Homo sapiens: one gene and its partners. The protein of the gene in region 2 interacts with the protein of the main gene of each other region in a pairwise test. Each region holds a gene or a part of one and is shown on either strand. Other genes may lie near its edges.

Region 1 (6,946 bases), about 96 Mb from region 2:
GATATATATTTGTATATATAAGATTTTCTTAAATCTTATTTTATTAACTAATTCTAAACTTTAGAAAAGTTTCAGGAATAGAACAAAGAGCTCCCATATCCTTTCCCAAGGTTCACTCATCACTACCATTTTTAACCTATTTGCTTAACATCCCCGTCTCTACACACATAACACCTTTGTTGCCCTAGACACTACACACCTCAGTATGTGTACACACAGCTGTTTATAGGCTGTGCCTTTGGTTTGTTTCTTAAGGTGCACTATATGTAGATCATTCACTCAACAAATGTTAAGTGAGCACCTACTACACAACCAGCACTGTTCAGGCACTGGGGGTTCAGCAGTGAATGAAGCAGGCAACAATTCCTGCCTCCAGGGAGCTCTGCCACAAGTTTCCTGTCCAGGTCTTCACTGGGCCATGCAGGCCATGCTTCTCTTTGAGGGCTAGGAGACAGACCACTGGGTTTGGTGGGGTCCACCTGAAGAAGCATGGGACGCTCACAGGATATCCTGGAAAGGCCTGCCTCGAGTCAGGCATGCCTGGCTCAGAATCCCACCTGCCGCTTACAAGCTGTGTGACTGCAGGCCAGTGGCGTGCCCTCTCTGAACCTGGAATGTCTCTTTAACTTGAGGTAAGAACCCCACTATCTGGCAGCATCAAGTGGCCATTGGATGTCCGGCTCCTTCCCGTGACTCTGGCGGGGCCTGGTGGACGCCCTGCTCTCCCTTCTCCGCTTCACTCCCTTGAGCAAGTCACTTGGCGTCCCTGAACTTTATGTTCAGCAACTATTCTGAAGGCAGGTGGATACCTGGGAGGAAACTAAGAACCCCCGAGTATCGTCCTGGGTGCTCACGCCAGGGCTTCATTCTTGGCATGACTTTTCTGCAATGGGGCGGTCACCCCCGTTTAATAGAAGTGGAATCTGTGGCTCGCAGGGGCTAGTCGTGTCCCCTGGTGCGGGAGCAGGATGGGACCCAGGCTGCCTCACTGTGCAGCGGGGACTCTGACTCTCCATGCTGTATGAAGCAACCTGCTGCCTACCCTCAAACCACAGGGACTATCGCACCCTCATCAAGGGTCACCAGACCCTGGGCCCGGGGGCCAGGCAGATAACACAAATGAGAGAAGAGGGTGAGGGCTTGGGGACACCTGGGATGCCTGGTGTCAGGGGGCACTGCTGACTTAGTGCCAGCTGGCACGGAAGTGCACAGCTGGGTTGCCAGAGCTGGCAGTTTTTTCAAGAATAGACAGAAATTCAGGATTAAATTGAAAGCAATCTCTCCCAGGCATGGAACTCACCGTGAACCTTGATCTAAACAAGGCTGTGAATAGCCCGGTGGGGTTTTGGCCCTGTGGTTTATGCCAGCCTGGCCCTGGCCCTGGCTAGAACTGCCCCATTGAGTTTTCCACCTGGGTCTTTGCCAGGATACTGGGCCAACTGTGTCACCTGGTGACCTCATTACCTGGTATTTCTGCTGGTCCGAGGCGACGCCATCCCACCACAGCCGGAAAAACTCCTGCTCCACAGCGATGAACCGGCGCTGCTGGCCGCGGGCCAGCTCTTCCACCACTGAGGTGTAGACATTGGCGGCGTACGCCCGCATGCTTTCCTGGGGAGGGGACAGCATCATGCCAGCCCCGGTCCAACAAGACCAAGTGTCCCTGGGGCCCCTGCCATTCGCCAGGTGTGTCTGCATGGGGTTGGGGGCTCTGCCCTTCCTTCCCTGCTGCTCACCCCCCACACAGCTATTAGGCACTCGCTCCATACCAGGCTCTCCCCACTGGATGGGATCGTGCTCTCCTGGGGGAGAGGGACGGGGAAACAGACACCCTACATGGGCAGAGACAGGTGCCCTCCCAGCCCAGGGGTCAGGGACAGTTTCTCAGAGGGGTGAGCAAGCTGGGCCTTGAGTGTGCAATTTGGGGGGCTGGGCCCTGAGTGTGCCATTGAGGGGCAGCACAGGAAAGTCTTAGGCCTCAGTCGGGGTGTGGTCCAGTGACCCCAAAGGGGCCTGCTGGGGCTGAAATGAGGAAAGCTGGTGCTGAGAGGAAGAGCTCCCCAGGCTGTCCCTGGCGTCTAGGCGTCTGCCTCCCCAAGGCTGGGAGCTCCAAGGACCACAGCTGTAGTGTGTTCCCATCCGAGTCCCGAGGGCCCTGCACACAGGGTGCCCACAGAGTGCTTACATGAATGGAAGGAGCACCGAGCAGGGAGTCAGGAGGCATGAGGGTTATTCCCGAGCGACCTTGGGCAAGGCAGCAACCCTCTCTGGGCCTCGGTTTTCTCCTCTGGAAACTGGCTGTAGTGGGCATGCTTCCCCTACCCTTTACAGATGGGGAAACTGAGGCTTAGGGACCAAAGCCCCTCGCCCAAGGTCCTGAGCAGAACCAGGAGGTGACCACAGGTCCACCTTCACCCCTGTCCTGGGGGGCGGAGGACGCTGAGCTGGCCTCCAATATTCAGCCCCGCAGGGGACCAGCCCGGCCCCTTCCCAGCGGGCACCTGACATCCACCTGCTCTGAAGCCAGCCCCACCCTCTCCTGCTCCAGGCTTCCCTGGAAAATGGGTTACCACTGTCAACCCCCAAGCCCCTCCCCAGCCGGGAATGCAGGGGTCCCTCCAATCTGCACCACCCTCCAGAAGGGGAAATGGGGGTTCAGAGGCAGGAAGTGACTGGCCCGAAGTTAGCGACGCAACCAGTCAATGGCAGCGTGGGGTCCTGAACCCACTGAGCCTCCTTCTGCGCCGGCATCGGGCCCCGGGACGCAAACCCACACTCAGATCCCGCGGGGAGAGGGAAGCTGCAGCCTCAGGGGCGCGCGGGGCGTGGTCGGCACCTACCTGCACAGTGTAGACCCAGCCCACGTCCATGTGGCTGTGGGGCACCACGAAGGCCCGGATGGGGCCGGCGGACTGGACCCCTGGCGGTCGCAGCAACAGGAGCGGTGCCAGCAGCGGCAGCCAGCACAGCTGCCCCATCCCTGCGGCAGGCCGGGAAGGTGCCAGGCCCACTTCCGGGTCCGCGAGGGGCGGGGCGGCCGCGCGGGCGGGGACGCGGCCCATTGGCTGCGGGCGGGGGCGGGGCCCATTGGTTGCCGGCTGGACGCCGACCCCGGGAAGCTCGGGAAGGAGGAGCTGGAGGCGCGGGGCCCTCAGCGGGGCAGGGCGCCTGCTCTTTGCGGTTTAGCTCTCCATCCCCGTCTCCAGCTTTCTGGCCTTCCCTCCCTGTCCATCCTTTCAGCCCCATCTCCCCCAAGCCTGCCAGATCTCCCCCAACCAGAGGAGACCCCTCCTCGCCCAAAGCCCACGCTCTGGTGGTTCCTCTCGGAGCGTGTGCCTCTTCGCAATACCTGCATCCCGCCCTCTGGACTCGGCTCCGGGACTCTGAGGCTACCGTGCAAAATTCGGCTCAGCACGGACCCTGTGAGCTCTGCCACCAGGAACCTTCCCTGATAACCCTTTCCCTCCTCTCCCTGGCGTCGAAACCCCATCTGGGCGGCGCCATGGGGGGCTTGTTATGGGACTGTCTCCTTTTTTTTTTTTTGGACAGGATCTCACTCTGTCTCCCAGGCCGGAGTGCAGTGGCGCGATCAGGGCTCACTGCAGCCTTGACCTCCCGGGCCCAAGTGATCCTCCCACCTCAGCCTCCTGAGTAGCTGGGACCACAGGGGCACACTGCCACACCCAGCTAATTAAAAAAAAAATTTATAGAGATGGGGGCCTCACTATGTTGCCCAGGCTGGTCCCAAACTCCTGAGCTCAAGCGATCCTCCTGCCTCCGCCTCTCAAAGTGCTGGGATTACAGGCATAAACCAGCATGCCTGGCTCAACTGTCTCCATTTTAAGGAGGAGAACTGGCTTTCAGAGACAGTAACTGACTTGTCCAAGATCACGCAGTTAGTGGAGGAGCCAAGAGAAGCTTTCTGGGTTACTGGATGGTGACCTGGGGCGACATAGGTAACCTCGCTGAGCCTCAGTGAAATGGGTCCGATAGAGGAGCTGTGAACAAAGTAAGGATGCACCCAGGCTGAGAGCGTGAGCACAGCACCCCTTGCCTGCACTCAGGGGAGGTGCGGTCACATTGGTGCAGCCTGTTTGGGACTGTTGCCTGGAGTCAGCCCTGTCCACTACTCCCTGCCCAAGAAAGCAAGGGTCTGTGGCTTGGGGTTTACTGTCTGAGAACCACTTGGCTGTGCCCCTGCCTGGCATTTCCTAGCGGAACCAGAGCTGCAGCTCTGAGCAAAAGTGCTGGTCCTCTTGTCCATTATGTAACAAATGGAAACTGAGAACAGGTTCTCCAAGCAGGTCTCCCTCCTCCTTCTGTCCTGTCCACCCCCTGGGGACCCCTGCATCCCCATAGCCTCAGGTCAGATGGTCTGAGCCTGACGTGGACAGTACTCACTAACACATGTCCCCATGACCGGCCAGGCTCACAGCTGGGCTCCACTCTCCAGCCTCTGCAACCAGGTGCGGCCACGTGGCTAAGTGCTAGTCAATGGGATGGGTGGGGGCGGGCACTGTGCTCCTCTTCCAGGCTGGCCCCTAACAACCTCCTGTGGGTGAGCCCTGCTCTCTTACTCACCCACTGCTCCAGTGGAGGGCACTCCGAGGACCTCAGGGAGGTTAGAGCCACCAATGGAGGCTCTGAAGAACCACATGGAACCATGAGGAACCCAAAGAGCTGTGACAAGAGGGAGAAATAAGCTTTAATTGTGTTAAGCCACTGAGTTTATCGATAAGGCAGTGTCACAATCTTTGGCAGACTGTATCTGCCAAAGATGGGCTCCACAACATTACCCACCCCCCAAGCTCTTTGTAGAATTTGGTTGACGAGAAAAGCCACACTCTAAAATATCTCAGAACGTTTATTCTAAGCCAAATAGGAGTGACCATGGCCTGTGACACAGCCTCAGGAGGTCCTGAGAACAGGTGCCCAAGGTGGTTGGGCTATAGCTTTATACATTTTATGGGGACAGAAGTTACAGGCAAAGACATGAATCAATATATGTAAAGTATACATTGGTTTGGCCCAGAAAGGTGGGACATCTTGAAGTGGGTGGGTGGTGCTTCCAGGTCAGAGGAGGATTCAAAGATTTCCTGATTGGCAATTGGTTAAAAGAGTTAAGCTTTACCTGAAGAGTTGGAGTCGGCAGAAAGAAATGCTTGAGTTAAGACAATGGGGATGTGGAAGCTAAGGTTCTTGTTACATAGATGAAGCCTCCAGTTAGCAGGCTTCAGAGAGAATAGATGTGCATGTCTCTGGGGACCTTAAAAGGTATCAGACTCTCTGGAAAAGAGCTAGTAAGTAAGGAGATTCTCTACAGAATGCAAGTTTCCCCCACAAGAGATGACTTTGCAAGTCCATTTCAAAATATGTCAAAGAAAATTTATTTTGGGGTAAAATACTTTGATTTCCTTTAGGGCCTGCTCTCTGTCGTGTGTTGCTATACCAGAGTCATGTTAGAATCGGGTATCTGATTGCTACAAAAGTGTTCTGTCAGTCTTAGGAGGATCTCTATGTTAATGTTAATGCTGGTCAGCTGTGCCGAAACTTAAAGGGAGGAGGCTATGATGAGGCATGTGTGACCTCCCACTTCCCATCATGGCCTGAACTAGTTTTTTGGGTTTCTTTGGGGTCCCCTTGGCCGACAGGGGGTCCATTCTCTCAGCTGGGGCTTATAATTTTATTTTTGATTTACAATATGATCTTGACATTCTTCCTATTAGGAGATAGGGTCTATGTCTCCTCTCATTGAATCTTGTTTATTTATTGTTTTTTATTTTATTAATTTTTGTGTTTTTTAGAGATAGAGTCTTGCTCTGTTGCCCAGGCCAGAGTGCAGTGGTGGACTCCTAACTTACTTCAGCCTCAAACTCCTAGGCTCACGTGATCCCCCTGTTTCAGCCTCCTGAGTAGCTGAGACCACAGGTATGTGCCATCATGCCTGGCTAATGAAAACTTTTTTTTTTCTTTTTTTTTTAGATATAATATCCCGTTATGTTGCCCAGGCTGATCTTGAACTCCTGGGCTCGAGGCATCCTCCCACCACCATCTCACAAAGTGCTGAAATTATAGGTGTATGCCACCATGCCCAACTAATTTTTCTTTTCTTTTTTGTAGACAAGATCTCTCTATGTTGCCCAGGCTGGTCTCAAACTCCTAGCCTCAAGGGATTCTCCGAAAGTGTTGGGATTACATGCATAAGCCACTGTGCCTGGCCCATGGGCGGGCTTGTGACACACTTGTTACAAAGAGAATGTAGTGAAAGTTGTACTGTGTGACTTCCATGACATCCATGTTCACTGGAGCACTCGTGCCTGGAGGCCTGAGTTGCCCTGTCAGCAGTCCAACTACCCTGAGGCCACCATGCTGTGAGGAAGCCCAACCAGCCCACATGGGGCAGACCACAGGGAGCAGCTCAAGATCACCATGCTGTTTCAGCTCCAGCCCCCCATCTGACTACAACAACATGTGAGACCTCATGTCATTTTCTCTCCTGCCCACTGTATCACAGCTGTGTAGGGTTTCATTTGTACTTTCCTCAAGGCTCTTGCGTGAGCTCTTGCTGCAGCTAGTCTCAGGCTTGAAGGTGATACTCACAACCCCCTCCTGGATTATTCATTCAGATCCCTTTCACCCTCAGCTAGACCCATGCTGGACTAGATAGCTTACCTGGTGGGTTGCCCCAGATCCTCACCAACGAGGATGAGCCCCTGGTGACCATTCCCTTCTTGAGCCATAGCTGCTCACTTGCCTATTTGCTGACTACATCAGGTGAAAGAGTCCTGAGGGACACCCATGTGGGTGGCACACAGTCTTCTCTGCTTCCATTGTGTGACAGCAACCCTACCTCCTCTGATGGTTCAGGTCAACTGCCCCTGCTCGATGGGTGACTCTTCCCCTGCCTACTGGTGTCTTGACATGAGTAGCCTGGCGTGACTGGTGT
Region 2 (7,104 bases):
TCAAGTACAAGAAACAGATTTTGTCAACTACTTATAGTACTTATCACTCCAAACTCCTTCCCACATTAAAAATCATCTATAATTGAGGCTATCATTTACTACCTCATATTATTAAAGCAGTTTACATATATCATCTCACTTCTCAAAGATATGTAATGTGGATGTATCAGGTTAAAACAAACCCTGAAGATTAGAGATTAAAAATTAAGTAACTTGTCCAACCAAACTCATACTGTGACAAGTATATTTGACCACTATTTACTATGACACCAAAGCTTTTTTCCATTAAACCTTAGGTCCTCTCTCAAAGAATGTGTATTTTAAAATACATGTTACTCTACATAAATGCCAAACATTGCGAAGGCATTAGATTTTTATTCTTCTTTGCTGCTCCAACTTTTCTAATGTAGGTAGTATCTATCATGACATGAAAACTTCAATTTAGGAATATGGTCTTTCAATACCAAATATTACAGAAAATTCTCTCATCTTAAAGAACTTCAAAACTGGGGATTTAAGAGGCGAAACAATCCTAGCACTGCAAAATTTTAGTGTACACGTAAACAGACATCTTACCGTTTTAGAACGCCAACACCTACAATAAGCTGCTTTAGTAAGACACAAATCTTCAATGTTTATTTCATTCACTACTTTCGGATTTTCCTTTTGTATTTTAAGATTAATCAAGCTATCCTTCTGTTGTTTCTTCTTCGGGAGGAATGGACGAACTGCAAGGTAGCCAAGAAGTGCGAGTACACCAAGGAAAGGCAATAACCGAAGCCATTCTGAAACTAAACATGTAGATGTGTCAGAATCTGCAGTGCTCTTGGAAAAGAATTCAAAATAGCATGTCTAGTTTCATCCTTGAGCTTATTCTTTGTTACTTTTTACATTAATTCCTTTTTAATGGATCCATAAAACTGTGAATAAATAACACAATAAAGCCAGCTCTACCAAAGACCACCTTACTTTATTTATAATTTGAGACCAGTGAAACTAGAAACCTAACTTTTCAGAAATAGGTTCCATTTCAAATATCCTATCTCATTGTCTACATCAAGTCTATTTGTGTTTGTCTATTTTTATTTTAGGAGTTATGATCACTATAACTATAAACAAAATTCAATGTATATTTTATAAGTTAAGAAAACATTTTATCTCCTTAATACTATGTCAAAATCATACAACAGAATATCTGCAGAATTTTTACCACTGATTCATAATATCAGAGAGAACATGTCCTCTGATGCTTTAAGGTACATTTTTGGTAAATGTTGCTAAAGAACACTGAAATTTTGTGTAAAAGCTACTATTTTAAAGAACAAATTGAAACCTTCTATGTTGAATGTTCTCATTTTAAGATATATCTAATTCCATAAACTTCATTTAAAGCCTTTTGGAGTACCTAGCCTGTCTTAAGGGGACAGGGAATATAAGTGATACAAATGAAACAGTCCCTATGCATGTGGACACAAAAATACCAGGAAACCAAGATAAACATTTCAACATACATTTATCAAATGTCTGCTAGCACCCTGCCTCTGCTGGGCTCTTTTCTGTTCTTATAGAATTACCAGTTAACTTCCTTCACTGAATGCCGAATCTGATACCTTGCTAGGCACTATGTGGAAATAGCTTAGTTGAGAAAAGAGAAAAACAGAAAATAATATGCTAACTCATGCTAATAAACATTAAAGATAAATGAACAGGTTATGCTAAGAGTATAAGGGCACTAGCTCATTTAACACTATGTTAGCTTAAACAACTATATGTGGTAGGTATCATTATTATCCCCATTTTACATGTGAGAAAACTGTAGCCTAAGCAGGTTTAGTCCAGGACACCCTAAATCCAAAGCCTGTTGTCAGTTATCATGAATCAAACCCAATAGATCTAAAATTAAAATCTGTGCCTATCTTGGTAAAACTACTCTCAGGAGATAATAGTACTATTTAACTATTGAAAGAAAGACAATATGAACTCTTCCAAAATGGAATTATTTTTGATATAACATCATGCCAAAGAAATCTAAATGAAAAAACCTATTTATCTACCATTTTCATAGATAGCACCTATAAGAGTGGCTGGCAAAAAAGACACAATAAATGGTAGCTTTTATTCAGAGATTATAGAGATTGGTGAGGAAGTACTAGCAACTCCTTTGAAAAAAATATTTTGCCAAATAACTTGACAATGCTATATGGGCAAAAATCTTCAGGAATATAATCTTGTAGTTACCAGAATAAAACTCTGTAAAAGTATGAACTTTGTCTGCCATGCTGGCTGTTACATTCTCATAACCAAAGTGGAGACACTCCAAATAGGTTCTTTGAGTGAATTAAAGCTCTGGAGATAACACAGAACTGTTTTTGCGGGGAGAAGGAGGCCTAGGTATAAGATCTGTGCTATTCAATATGGGCACCACTAGCCATACTGTTTAGATTTGTACCCAACAGACTTGTAGAAACTGTCTTGAAATAACAGTTTATTACTTATAGTTCCCAAGAGGAGAGGATACACTATGCAATGCAGGGCCACATGAGAGGTACTAGGGTTGATCAGGAGGAAGAAAGAGGAAAGGGAAAAAGCATGGGCACAGGCCTTTACTGTGGTTTCCATGGAAAAGGCAAGGCAGGAAACTGTTCAGGACTGGCTAGCTTGAATAATTTCAGTGGGTTCTGGGCAAAAGTAGTGGTCCCTAGTCGTCTCCTACCTGTCCCTGGGGTGACTTAGGGCAGGAGAAATATTGACTGGAGAAATACTGACTTCATGTGTAAGGGTTAGATAAAGGAGGTGGTTGGGGGCATGGGCTTTGGATTGGTTGGTTTGCATATGAAAGGCATGCTCACAGGCAAGTTATTTAGTATCTCTAGGAATTAAATTGTCTCCACAGCCAACAAGGCTCCTAAGATATTAAAGCATAATAAAATACAGAAAATTGAAAACACGGTTAATATACACATGTGGGCGTGGTGGCTCATGCCTATAATCCCAACACTTTGGGAGGCTGAGGAGGGCAGATCACGAGGTTAGGAGTTCAAGACCAGCCTGGCCAACATGGCGAAACCCCGTCTCTAATAAAAATACAAAAAATTATCCAGGCGTGGTGGCAGGCGCCTGTAATTCCAGCTACCTGGGAGGCTGAGGCAGGAGAATCGCTTGAATTCAGGAGGCAGGGGTTGCAGTGAGCCGAGATCATGCCATTGCACTCCAGCCTGGGTGACAAGAGCAAGACTCTGTCTCAAAAACAAAACAAAACAAAACAAACACATGTGGCTATTCACATGTAAATAAATTAAAATTAAGTAAAATGTAAAATGCTGTTTCTAAGACACACTGGTAACCTTTCAGAGGCTCAATAGCTAGCTACATGTGACTACTGACTACCATATTGAACAGTACAGAGAACATTTCCATTACCACAAAGTTTTACTGGACAATGCTACTATAGATCATTGGCTCTATAAGGTGCCATCTCCAAAGAATGGCAAGGCTACCTTTCCAGCTTCAACTTCCACAAACATGGTCTCTTCATGTACCTGAGGCCAGCGAAAGCTACTGTCTAGTAAGCAGCCTTTTTGAGTTCTTTGCATATGGAGTTCCTTCTGTTTTATCTGACTAATTATCTTAGCTTGCAATTGGCCCCAGCATCCAGTATGTAACTCGAAATAGCAGTCATTAAATGTTTGTTCAATGTAGAATAACATTAAGTATTATTGTACATATTACAATATTTTAGAAGTCATAAGAGCTTAAATTTATCAAAAAGCGAGTGAATGGGAACGCAAAGATGAAAATCTTATTTATTTATTTTTGAGACAGGGTTTCACTTCCATTGCCCAGGCTGGAGTGCAGTGGTGTGCTCTTGGTCACTACCACCTCCACCTCCCGGGCACAAGCTATCCTCCTGCCTCAGCCTCCCAAGTAACTAAAACTGCAGGAGCACACCACAACGTCTGGCTAATTTTTGTATTTTTAGTAGAGATGGGGTTTCACCATGTTGGCCAGGCTGGTCTCAAACTCCTGACCTCAAGTGATCCGCCTGCCTCAGCCCCACGAAGTCCTGGGATTACAGGTGTGAGCCACCATGCCTGGTTGAAAACCTTAATGTTAGACTCTTAAATATAGCATTTCCTATCTTAACCCACAAACCTCAAGAACAAATGGTATTACTACTGTTTTAAAATCCACTTCAGAAAATATTCTTTTGAACACTTAATTCCTTGGTAAAACACTATGCTTAAAAATACAGTGATGAGAGGTACTATTACCTCCTACAACAAAGTAATAACTTACCAAAGTCTTAACATAATCTACTTTTTAAAGATAACCAACTACAATTTAACTACTGAAAAACTTTATACATGAAAGCAATACAGCTTGAAAAGCTCAATTCAAATGACTGTAAGTACATTTATTCAGGCTGTTTTTGTACTGATACATAATAACTGTACATATTTATGGGGTACAAGTGATATTTTGCTACATGCATACATGCATATGATGTGCAATGATCAACTCAGTGTAACTGGGATATTCGTCACCTCATTTATCATTTATTTATATTGAGAACATTCCAAATTTTCTCTCCTATTTTGAAATATACACTAAAATTACTGATAACAATAGTCACCCTATTATGCTATTGAATACTAGAACTTTTTCTATATAACCGTACTATAGTGCCCATTAACCAACCTCTCTTCATTCTCTCCCTCCCTACCCTTCCTGGCCTCTGGTAACTACCATTTGACTATCTCCATGAGATCAACTTTTTTAGTTCCCACATATGAATGAGTACATAGAATATTTCTCTGTCAATTAAGGCTGATTTTATATGAAGAAAGATAAAATACAGAAGAATCAAACAAGAAACTTAAAAAAAATTTTACATGTGCTAGTCTCTATAGATCTGTTTGATATATGTTCAGCTATTACAGATATTTTAGATACTTTGAAAGGAAAATATTACTAACTGTAAATAATGTGCAAAAAAAATTTTTTTTTTTTTTTTTTGAGACAGCGTCTCGCTCTGTTTCCCAGGCTGGAGTGTGTGTCGTGTTAGCTCACTGCAATCTCCACTGCCCGGGTTCAAGCGATTCTCGTGCCTCAGTGACCTCCCGAGTAGCTGGGATTATAGGCGCACGCCACCACACCCAGCTAATTTTTGTATTTTAGTAGAGATGGGGTTTCACCGTGTTGGTCAGGTTGGTCTCAAGCTCCTGACCTCAGGTGATCCACCCACCTTGGCCTCTCAAAGTGCTGGGATTACAGGCGTGAGCCACCGTGCCTGACCAAATAAAATAATTTAAAATATATTTTTTTTTTAATGAGATAGTCTCACTCTGTCACCCAGGCTGATGTGCAGTGGCATGATCTTGGCTCACTGCAACCTCTGCCTCCCAGGTTCAAGTGATTCTTGTGCCTCCGCCACCCAAATAGCTGGGATTATGGACGTGCGCCACCACACCAAGCAAATTTTTGTATAAAATAATGTATTTTATTCAGCATATTATTTATTTTTGTCTTAGGATTATAAAAAATAACATTTATGTATTTATTTGGTAAATGTATCTCTTTTTTGGTATGTAAATACATAGGCTGTAAATGCTTAAAAAATAAGGCTATATTGCATTTTTCACTTAATGGTATGTCAGATTATTATATTATTTCCCCAACTCCTTAATATCAGTTGGAAACATAAATTTTAATGGCTGCATCTACCTATCATGTTCCCCACTCACAATATAAGAGATACAAGGGGGCTGGGCGTGGTGGCTTACGCCTGTAATTCCAGCACTAAGGGAGGCTGAGGTGGGCAGATCACTTGAGGTCAGGAGTTCGTGACCAGCCTGGCCAACATGGTGAAATCCCAACTCTACTAAAAATACAGAAAATTAGCTGGGCATGGTGGCACACGCCTGTAATCCCAGCTACTCAGGAGGCTGAGGCAGGAGAATCACTTAAATCCCGGAAGTGGAGGTGGCAGTGAGGTAAGATCTCACCACTGCACTCCAGCCTGGGAGACAGAGAAGAGACTCTATCTCAAAAAAATAAAAAAAATAAAAAATAAAAGAAAAAGAGAGATACAAGGGCAGGGACCTTATTTGTCTGATCATCTGTGTCCCCAGTGTCTATATAACGTCTGGCTCAATTTATTTAACTTACTTTTGTTTGAAGTGTTTAATTTACAGTTCAGTTTATTGAGCTTTGTGCTTTTTGTTTGTTTGTTTTTGAGATGGAGTCTCGCTCTGTCGCCCAAGCTGGAGTGCAGTGGCATGATCTTGGCTCACTGCAACCTCTGCCTCCCGGGTTCAAGCGATTCTCCTGCCTCAGCCTTCTGAGTCACTAGGATTACAGGTGCCTGCCAAAACGCCCTGCTAATTTTTATATTTTTAGTAGAGATGGGGTTTCACCATGTTGGCCAGGCTGGTCTCAAACTCCCATCTGCCTGCCTCAGCCTCCCAAAGTGCTGAGATTACAGGCATTAGCCACCGCACCTGGCCAAGCTTTGTGTTTGTGAAGCGCTCAGTTTGATGAGTTTTGTAACTATATGGACCTATAAACACCACCTAAGACAAAATACATTTCCATTGCCCCAGAAAGTTTGCTCTTGTAGTACTTTCCCAATCAATCCCCCCCTTCTGATTTTTATTAAGTGCTTACTAAACATTTTCTGAAAGAATAAATCAATTTCTCATTGTTAAACAAATTTTTACTATATAATTATTACTATAAAAATTAAATATTTACTATATAATTATTAAGTATCTACTAATATGGTTTGGCTCTGTGTCCCCATCCAAATCTCATCTCAAATTGTAATCCCATAATCCCCACGTCAAGGGAGGAACCTGGTGGTTGGTGATTAAATCATCAAGGCAATCTCCCCCATGCTGTTCTCCTGATAGTGAGTTCTCATGAGATCTGGTTTTAAAATGGGCTCTTCCTGCTTTGCTCTTCACTCTTCTCTCCTGCCTCGTGAAAAAGGTGCCCCTTCCACCATAATTGTAAGTTTCCTGAGGCCTCCCTAGTCATGCGTAACTGTGAGTCAATTAAACTTATTTCTTTTATAAATTACCCAGTTTGGGGTAGTATTTTTAT
Region 3 (7,000 bases), on a different chromosome or scaffold from region 2:
AGTCTGTGCGACCTGGCTGGGAGTACATTGGCCGGAAGATGGTAGGTCCCCCACATCCCAGGGTCCCTCCCATCCCGAACCCTTCTCTGCTCTCTGCTGTTCCAGATGTTGGCAAGTAACAGAGAGCTTCTCACAGCTCTGGGGCCTCTGGCTTGAGCTTCAGTGCCTTCAGCTTCTTTACTGGCCCCTCCTGTATCCTCCTGGGACATCAAGTTTGCCCGGGCCCTGCTCACTTGGGAAATAGGTCGCATTAGTGGAGTGTGCTTCAGTGGAGCCTCCAGCACCTCCTTCCCAGAAACAAAGCAGTAAAGGGGGAATGGCAGGCAACGTGCGGAGGAGAGGGGGAGCTTCAAGCGACCCGGCAGCCCCCATGGTGCCCTTCACTCCTCTCTACCCTCCTGCCTCGGTACTTCCTTCACAGAGGAGTGTGGAGACCTGCAGGCACTGCTCTTGTGTTTGCATAAAGAGGACACGTTGGGTTTGGCTAGTGGTAAAAAATAATTATTATTATTAAATTTAAAAATGATAATAATAAAAGAAGAACATGAAGGCTGGGAAAGGTGCTGGGGCTCTGACCAGCCCAGGTTCCAGCTCGTCCTGTCCCCTCTCCCACCCTCACCTGCCCCACCTCCTTCTGCCCCGGACTGCCCCAGGATGTGGCTGACTTCGAGTGGGTGATGTGGTTCACCTCCTTTCGCAACGTCATCATCTTTGCCCTCTCCGGACATGTGCTGTTTGCTAAACTCTGCACGATGGTTGCCCCAAAGGTGAGCTGGACCTGGGCCACCCAGCCTCTCCCTGCCAGCTCCTCTTTCACCACAAGGGTTGTGGGAACCCCCTCCTGGGGTCACGCCCCCATTTATATGGCGAAACTGAAGCCTTCTCCCTGCCCACAGCTCCGCTCCTGGATGTATGCTGTGTACGGGGCCTTGGCTGTGATGGGCACAATGGGCCCTTGGTACCTGCTGCTGCTGCTTGGTCACTGTGTGGGCCTCTATGTGGCCTCGCTTTTGGGCCAGCCCTGGCTCTGTCTTGGCCTTGGCTTGGCCAGCCTGGCCTCCTTCAAGATGGACCCCCTAATCTCTTGGCAGGTGTGAACTGGTGCAGGGGTAGAGGGTGTAGGGATAAGATCCCAAACCTCTCACTTCATCCAAAGTCCTTGCACCCCAAGTATCCCCAAGTATTCCCTTCACTTTCCACCTGTCTTCAAGCCTTTGGGTATGTCCTGGCCACAAGGTGAGCACCTGCATCACAGGAGGAACTATCCAGATCATCCCCTGCTCCTCGCATTGCTGGGATAGAGCAGTGGCCAAAGTTAACTGGCTCTGGAAGAGAGGAAGGGACAGGACCAGGCTGGGCCCCTGTGGGAAGCTAGGGAGTGGGGAATAGGTTTTCCAGAGACAGGAGGCACCCTAGTGAGCTGGTGGCCTGTTCTTTCCCCCTCCAGAGCGGGTTTGTAACAGGCACTTTTGATCTTCAAGAGGTGCTGTTTCATGGGGGCAGCAGCTTCACAGTGCTGCGTTGCACCAGCTTTGCACTGGAGAGCTGTGCCCACCCTGACCGCCACTACTCCTTAGCTGACCTGCTCAAGTACAACTTCTACCTGCCCTTCTTCTTCTTCGGGCCCATCATGACCTTTGATCGCTTCCATGCTCAGGTGAGGGGACACCCTGTGGGCTTCTAGAACAGGGCTGAATCTCCCTTTTCAGATTGGGGTTTCCATCTCAGATAGAATTCCCCAAGCAGGCTGTATCCCCATCCTCAGGCATGATTCCAGGATGAAGCCGTGTCTCCCCTCCCTCCTCAGACCCCAGGATGGGGCCACCTTTCCCCTCCAGCAGGGACCCCAGGGTGGAGACATGTCTCTTTTCTCAGACAGGACTCCCAGGCCACGAATGTTCCCTTCCCACTCAAATGGGGCTCCCAGGACAGAACTGGGTCTCCCATGGCTGGCTGTGAATCCTCCTCAGACTCCAGGGTGACCTCTGTCTCCACCCTCAGGCAGGACTCCTGGATAAAGCCATGGCTCCTCCTGCCCCAAGTAGTTGGTGAGCCCCCCTCAGACAGGGCTCCCCAGGCAGGGCTTGCCTCTTCCCTCAGACCCTTCGCATCCCCCCAGGTGAGCCAGGTGGAGCCAGTGAGACGCGAGGGTGAGCTGTGGCACATCCGAGCCCAGGCAGGCCTAAGCGTGGTGGCCATCATGGCCGTCGACATCTTCTTTCACTTCTTCTACATCCTCACTATCCCCAGCGACCTCAAGTTCGCCAACCGCCTCCCAGACAGTGCCCTCGGTGGGTCCACAGAAGAGAAATGGGGGCAGGGCTGCCGCCCCAGGAAAACAGACCCTCTGCACCCCCACGGTGCCACAGTCAGGGGAGCTGAGGCACGCAGGGCACAGCACCTGAGGGCGTGGGAGCAGGGGCTTATTCTTTCTAATGCATGGGTCTTGGCATTAGCTTCATCCTGTGGGGCCAGAGCAGCATCCCACGGACCCCACCCACTTCACCAGGCATGACTGATTTCCACAATATGGGGGGGTCTCCGTGGGGCGGGCAGAGCCTGGTGTCTCCCCAAGGAAGTGGTGGGACAGGGTCTTCATGGGGGCAGGCCCCAGGCGATTGGACCCCAGGCAGTGACAGTGCCCTGCCCCCAGCTGGCCTAGCCTATTCAAACCTGGTGTATGACTGGGTGAAGGCGGCCGTCCTCTTTGGTGTTGTCAACACTGTGGCATGCCTCGACCACCTGGACCCACCCCAGCCTCCCAAGTGCATCACCGCACTCTACGTCTTTGCGGAAACGTGAGTGCTGGCCAGGACGGGGGAGGCTCACCCCCTGGGACCACACCTTCCCCTAGCCTCTTCCCCCATGCCTGGGGAGCTCTGCGCCTGATGGCAACATGCCCATCTGCTTTCCTCTTACAGGCACTTTGACCGTGGCATCAACGACTGGCTTTGCAAGTGAGTAGGAGTGGGGTGGGGGTGGTCACAGCCATCCTGCCAGGTGTCTGAGCAGGGCAGTGCCAAGATGGGTCCACATTTTAAAAGATCACCCCTGGGCCAGGGGAAGCAAAGAGGGCAGTGAGGAGGTATTGGCAGAGGTCTGGGTGAAAGATATAGAAGTTAGGATTTAAGTGAGGGCCCTCGAGGTGGAGAGAGGTGGTGGGAGGAGGGTCACACAGTCAGCAGCCTGAACAGGACGTGGCCATGAACTGTGGGTGTTGGGAAGGAGAAGGAGATGACGCTCAAATTGCTGTCTGCAGCCTGGGAGGATGGAGGGCAGTTTCCAGAGAGGGCTTCAGTTTAAGAAATGTATAGTCGCAATCTAGGAGACATCCCTGTGGAGGTTCAGGGAGGTGGTTGGGTCTGAGGGTCTGGGTTTCTGAGGGTCCAGAGGACTGATGGAACTCAGAGCGTCCTGAGTGTGGGCAGGTGGTTTTTAGGCTTTGGGAGTGGGTAAGTCCTCAGGAGAGGGAGTGGTGTGAGAAGAGGAGAGACGGGGATGGCCGAGATTCAGCCTGCAAGAGCTCTGCTTGGAAGGAAAAGGAGCCAGCAGAAAGGACTGGAAAGAGTAGTTGGAGGGGCAGGAGAAGAATCAAGGTCATGTGCCACCCTGGAAGCCAAGGGAAGACCATCCAGGCATGGTGGGGACAGCTTGGTCAGATGCCACTGAGCCTCAAGGAAGCTGGAGACCGAGGATTAGTGCTGGTGACATGGAGGTTTTCAGCCTTTCATGGGCAAGGCAGGAGCAGGTAAGGAGGGAAAGTCAACTGAGGAGTAGAGAAGTGTGTGATGACTCCTGGAAGAAGCCTGGGACTGCAGGGGGAAGACAGGAGTGGCTGAGGGAGAAGAGGGATGTGTTAAAGATAGGAGAGAATGGGACATGCTAAGAAGAATTATTCAACAGAGAAGCTGGGGATGCAGGATACAGGGGTGATTGATGGAGTGAGGTCCCTGAAGAGGAAGGAGGTGAGGGTGTCTAGTTCCAGGCGGAGGCCTGGCTTCAGTGGGAGGAGGAGGAAGAGAAGCCAGTGTGGATGCAGAGGAAAGCAGGTTAATGTAGACAAGTAAGGGATTCCACCTGAAGGCTTCAGCCTTGTCCATGAAGCAGGAGGCACGGCCATCAGCTGAGAAAGCCAGGACAGGGACGTGGAGAGAGGCAACATATATGCTTACCCCCACAACCCAGCCTGGATCCCCCCACTCATACTATCTCTCCACTCATACTTGTGGGGAGATAAGAATACAGTGGCCCTTGCAGAGCAAGGGAGAAGCAGCTGACTAGAGAAATCTTGGCACTGAGTACCCAGGTGGTATTGGAGGTGGTGGGCTTATGAACTCCAGCATGTGAAGATGTGAGATTTCCCCCATGGGGCTTAGCTGCCTGGGTGTAGCTGAGGAGAAAGTAAGTGATTGGGCTCTCCCAGATGGATGACAAGGAAGAAGTCAGGAATAAGGGTTTTTAGATTATTTATAGTCATGACTCATTGGATATAAGCCTGCTAAGGACGGTGGTGAAGGTGGGAGGGTCACAAGATCAATGGGATTGAAGAACTGAAGCTGGGGGGCCAGGAGGTCAAGAGGAGTTGGGCAAAGAATGGGAATTAGAAAGGAGTGAACTTTCAAGTGGTGACAAAGTTGGGGCATGGCCATGGGTGTGGGTGGCTGAGGTGGAGTGGAGAAAAAGCCATTGGAAATGAGGAGGTCGAGGAATGGAGAGGCTGGTTATTCCTGGGTCTTCCACAGAACTTATTTAACAAATATTTATTGAGCACCTATGTGCCAGGCATTGTTCTAGGCACTGGGGATACAGCAGTGAACATGGCAAAGACCCTGAACTCATGGAGCTTACAGTCTAGTGGGGAGAAACAGACCATAAACAGGTAAACAAACATAAATAAGATAATTTTAGAGAGTGGTAAGTGTTATGAAGAAAATAAAATTGCAATGGGATAGAAGTTGACAACAGGGTAGAAGCTTCTTTAGTCGGGGTCTAGGCAGGCTTCTCTGAGGAGATGATATTTGAATTGAGATTTGAGTGATAAGGAGATGTGGAGCAGAGAATACCAGGTAGAGGGAACAACAAGGGCAAAGGCCTTGAGACACAAACCAACTGTGTGGGTGTAAAGGTAAGAAAGGCCAGTGAGGCCAGCATGATGAACTGGGGGAGCATGGTGGCTGATTTGGTCAGGAAGGGAACAGAAACCAGACCACTTGGGATCTTCTAGCCAGAGTAAAGAGACTGAGTTTATTCCTATTGTAATGGGGAGCTATTCAGAGAGGTTAATCATGGAAGTGATGTGACCTGAGCTACACTCTTAAAAGATGCCTCTGGCTGCTGTGTGGAGAATGAACCATGGGGGCAAAAGCAGAAACAAGAAGACCACTTAAGAGGCTCTTGCAATAATTTATGTGAGAAGAGTGATCATCTTGACTAGGGTGGTGGTGGTAGAGGAGGTGAGTGGTGGTCAGGACTGAGAGGAGCCAACAGAATTTGCTGGCTTGCTTGGATGTGGGTGATGAGGCAAACTGAGAATCCAAGATGGCACCAAGGCTTATACCCTGAGCAACTGAATGGATGGTGGTGCCATTCACTGAGATGAGGACGGAGCTGGGTTTGAGCAGGGATAGGGGAATCTGTCAATCAAGTGACATGGCTAGTAGCAATTGCATATACAAATCAGGAGAGACTGGGCTAAAGACACAGATTTAGGGGTCATCGTCATAGAGCTAGTACTTGAAATCTTGGGTCTGGATGAGATCATTTGGGAAGTAAACGAACAGAGATAGAGAAGCTATAATGTCCCAGGCTGAGCCTGCCACAATTTGAAGTTGGTTGGAGGAGGAGCTGCTACGTGAGGTCAGGAATGTTGAATGCACCCAGGGTGACAGTGTTGAGGAGGACGCCCTGTTGTGTGTCCTCTCCCATCTCATCCCTGCCCTTTCCCACACTCCCAGTGGCCCTTCTCCCATCTTTCCTGCAGATATGTGTATAACCACATTGGTGGGGAGCATTCCGCTGTGATCCCAGAGCTGGCAGCCACAGTGGCCACATTTGCCATCACCACACTGTGGCTTGGGCCTTGTGACATTGTCTACCTGTGGTCATTCCTTAACTGCTTTGGCCTCAACTTTGAGCTCTGGATGCAAAAACTGGCAGAGTGGGGGCCCCTAGCACGAATTGAGGTGAGCAGGGAAGACCTGGGGCTGGGACTGGCTGGGTCATAGAGGGCGGGGGGGCACTGCTGCTTTCTGGAGTTGTCCAAACACCTGGCCCCTAATCCAGAACTTTCTCACCACCACCCTCTTAGTTGTCAGAGCAATGGCTCACTCTGTAGGAATCTGCCCCTCCCTCCCTTCTATGAGGAATGGAGCACCTGGGCCTTGCCATGTTGGTCAGGCCTTGTCCTCTCTCTGGACCTGTTTCCCCATGTTTAACAAGGAGGGAGAGCTGACCTGGGGCTCTCCGAGACCCAGACATAGCCCCAAGACCTGACTGGCCAGGTGGGTAAGGCTGCTGACCCACCATGTCCTCTTTCCTTTGGCCTCTTGTCCCGCTGCCCATGCTTTCCTGGACCGGATAGGCCTCTCTGTCAGTGCAGATGTCCCGTAGGGTCCGGGCCCTGTTTGGAGCCATGAACTTCTGGGCCATCATCATGTACAACCTTGTGAGCCTGAACAGCCTCAAATTCACAGAGCTGGTTGCCCGGCGCCTGCTACTCACAGGTGAGGGACAGGGGTGTGGGGATACAGAAGGTGCCAGGCATCAGCCTCAAGGACCGTGACCTTCCAAAATGCCTCCTATCTCCCTCATCACCCCTGGGACTCAGAAGGGAGGGCCCATCAAGCGGGGAGAGGGGTGGGAAGACAAAAGTCGCTGAGGATGCAGTGCTGCTCCTGAGCATCTATGACTCCCTCCCCACACAGGGTTCCCCCAGACCACGCTGTCCATCCTGTTTGTCACCTACTGTGGCGTCCAGCTGGTAAAGGAGCGTGAGCGAACC

The links. Proteins that work in one complex are often made in the same cells at the same time.
Region 1: the proteins of CISD2 (region 2) and MAN2B2 interact in binary tests that used the Homo sapiens proteins (3 or more experiments, as listed by UniProt).
Region 3: the proteins of CISD2 (region 2) and HHATL interact in binary tests that used the Homo sapiens proteins (3 or more experiments, as listed by UniProt).

The regions. Positions count from the first base shown.
Region 1 is NC_000004.12:6,571,243-6,578,188, reverse strand, and holds the start of MAN2B2 (epididymis-specific alpha-mannosidase isoform 1 precursor), read right to left. Parts: upstream 3,001-6,946; 5' UTR 2,979-3,000; coding exon 2,841-2,978; intron 1,612-2,840; coding exon 1,465-1,611; intron 1-1,464.
Region 2 is NC_000004.12:102,878,903-102,886,006, reverse strand, and holds part of CISD2 (CDGSH iron-sulfur domain-containing protein 2), read right to left. Parts: intron 959-7,104; exon of another isoform or gene 792-958; coding exon 577-791; intron 1-576. UniProt on the Homo sapiens protein: Regulator of autophagy that contributes to antagonize BECN1-mediated cellular autophagy at the endoplasmic reticulum.
Region 3 is NC_000003.12:42,692,799-42,699,798, reverse strand, and holds part of HHATL (protein-cysteine N-palmitoyltransferase HHAT-like protein), read left to right. Parts: coding exon 1-41; intron 42-653; coding exon 654-767; intron 768-896; coding exon 897-1,091; intron 1,092-1,447; coding exon 1,448-1,657; intron 1,658-2,119; coding exon 2,120-2,291; intron 2,292-2,653; coding exon 2,654-2,798; intron 2,799-2,921; coding exon 2,922-2,957; intron 2,958-5,954; coding exon of another isoform or gene 5,955-5,980; coding exon 5,981-6,182; intron 6,183-6,580; coding exon 6,581-6,722; intron 6,723-6,923; coding exon 6,924-7,000.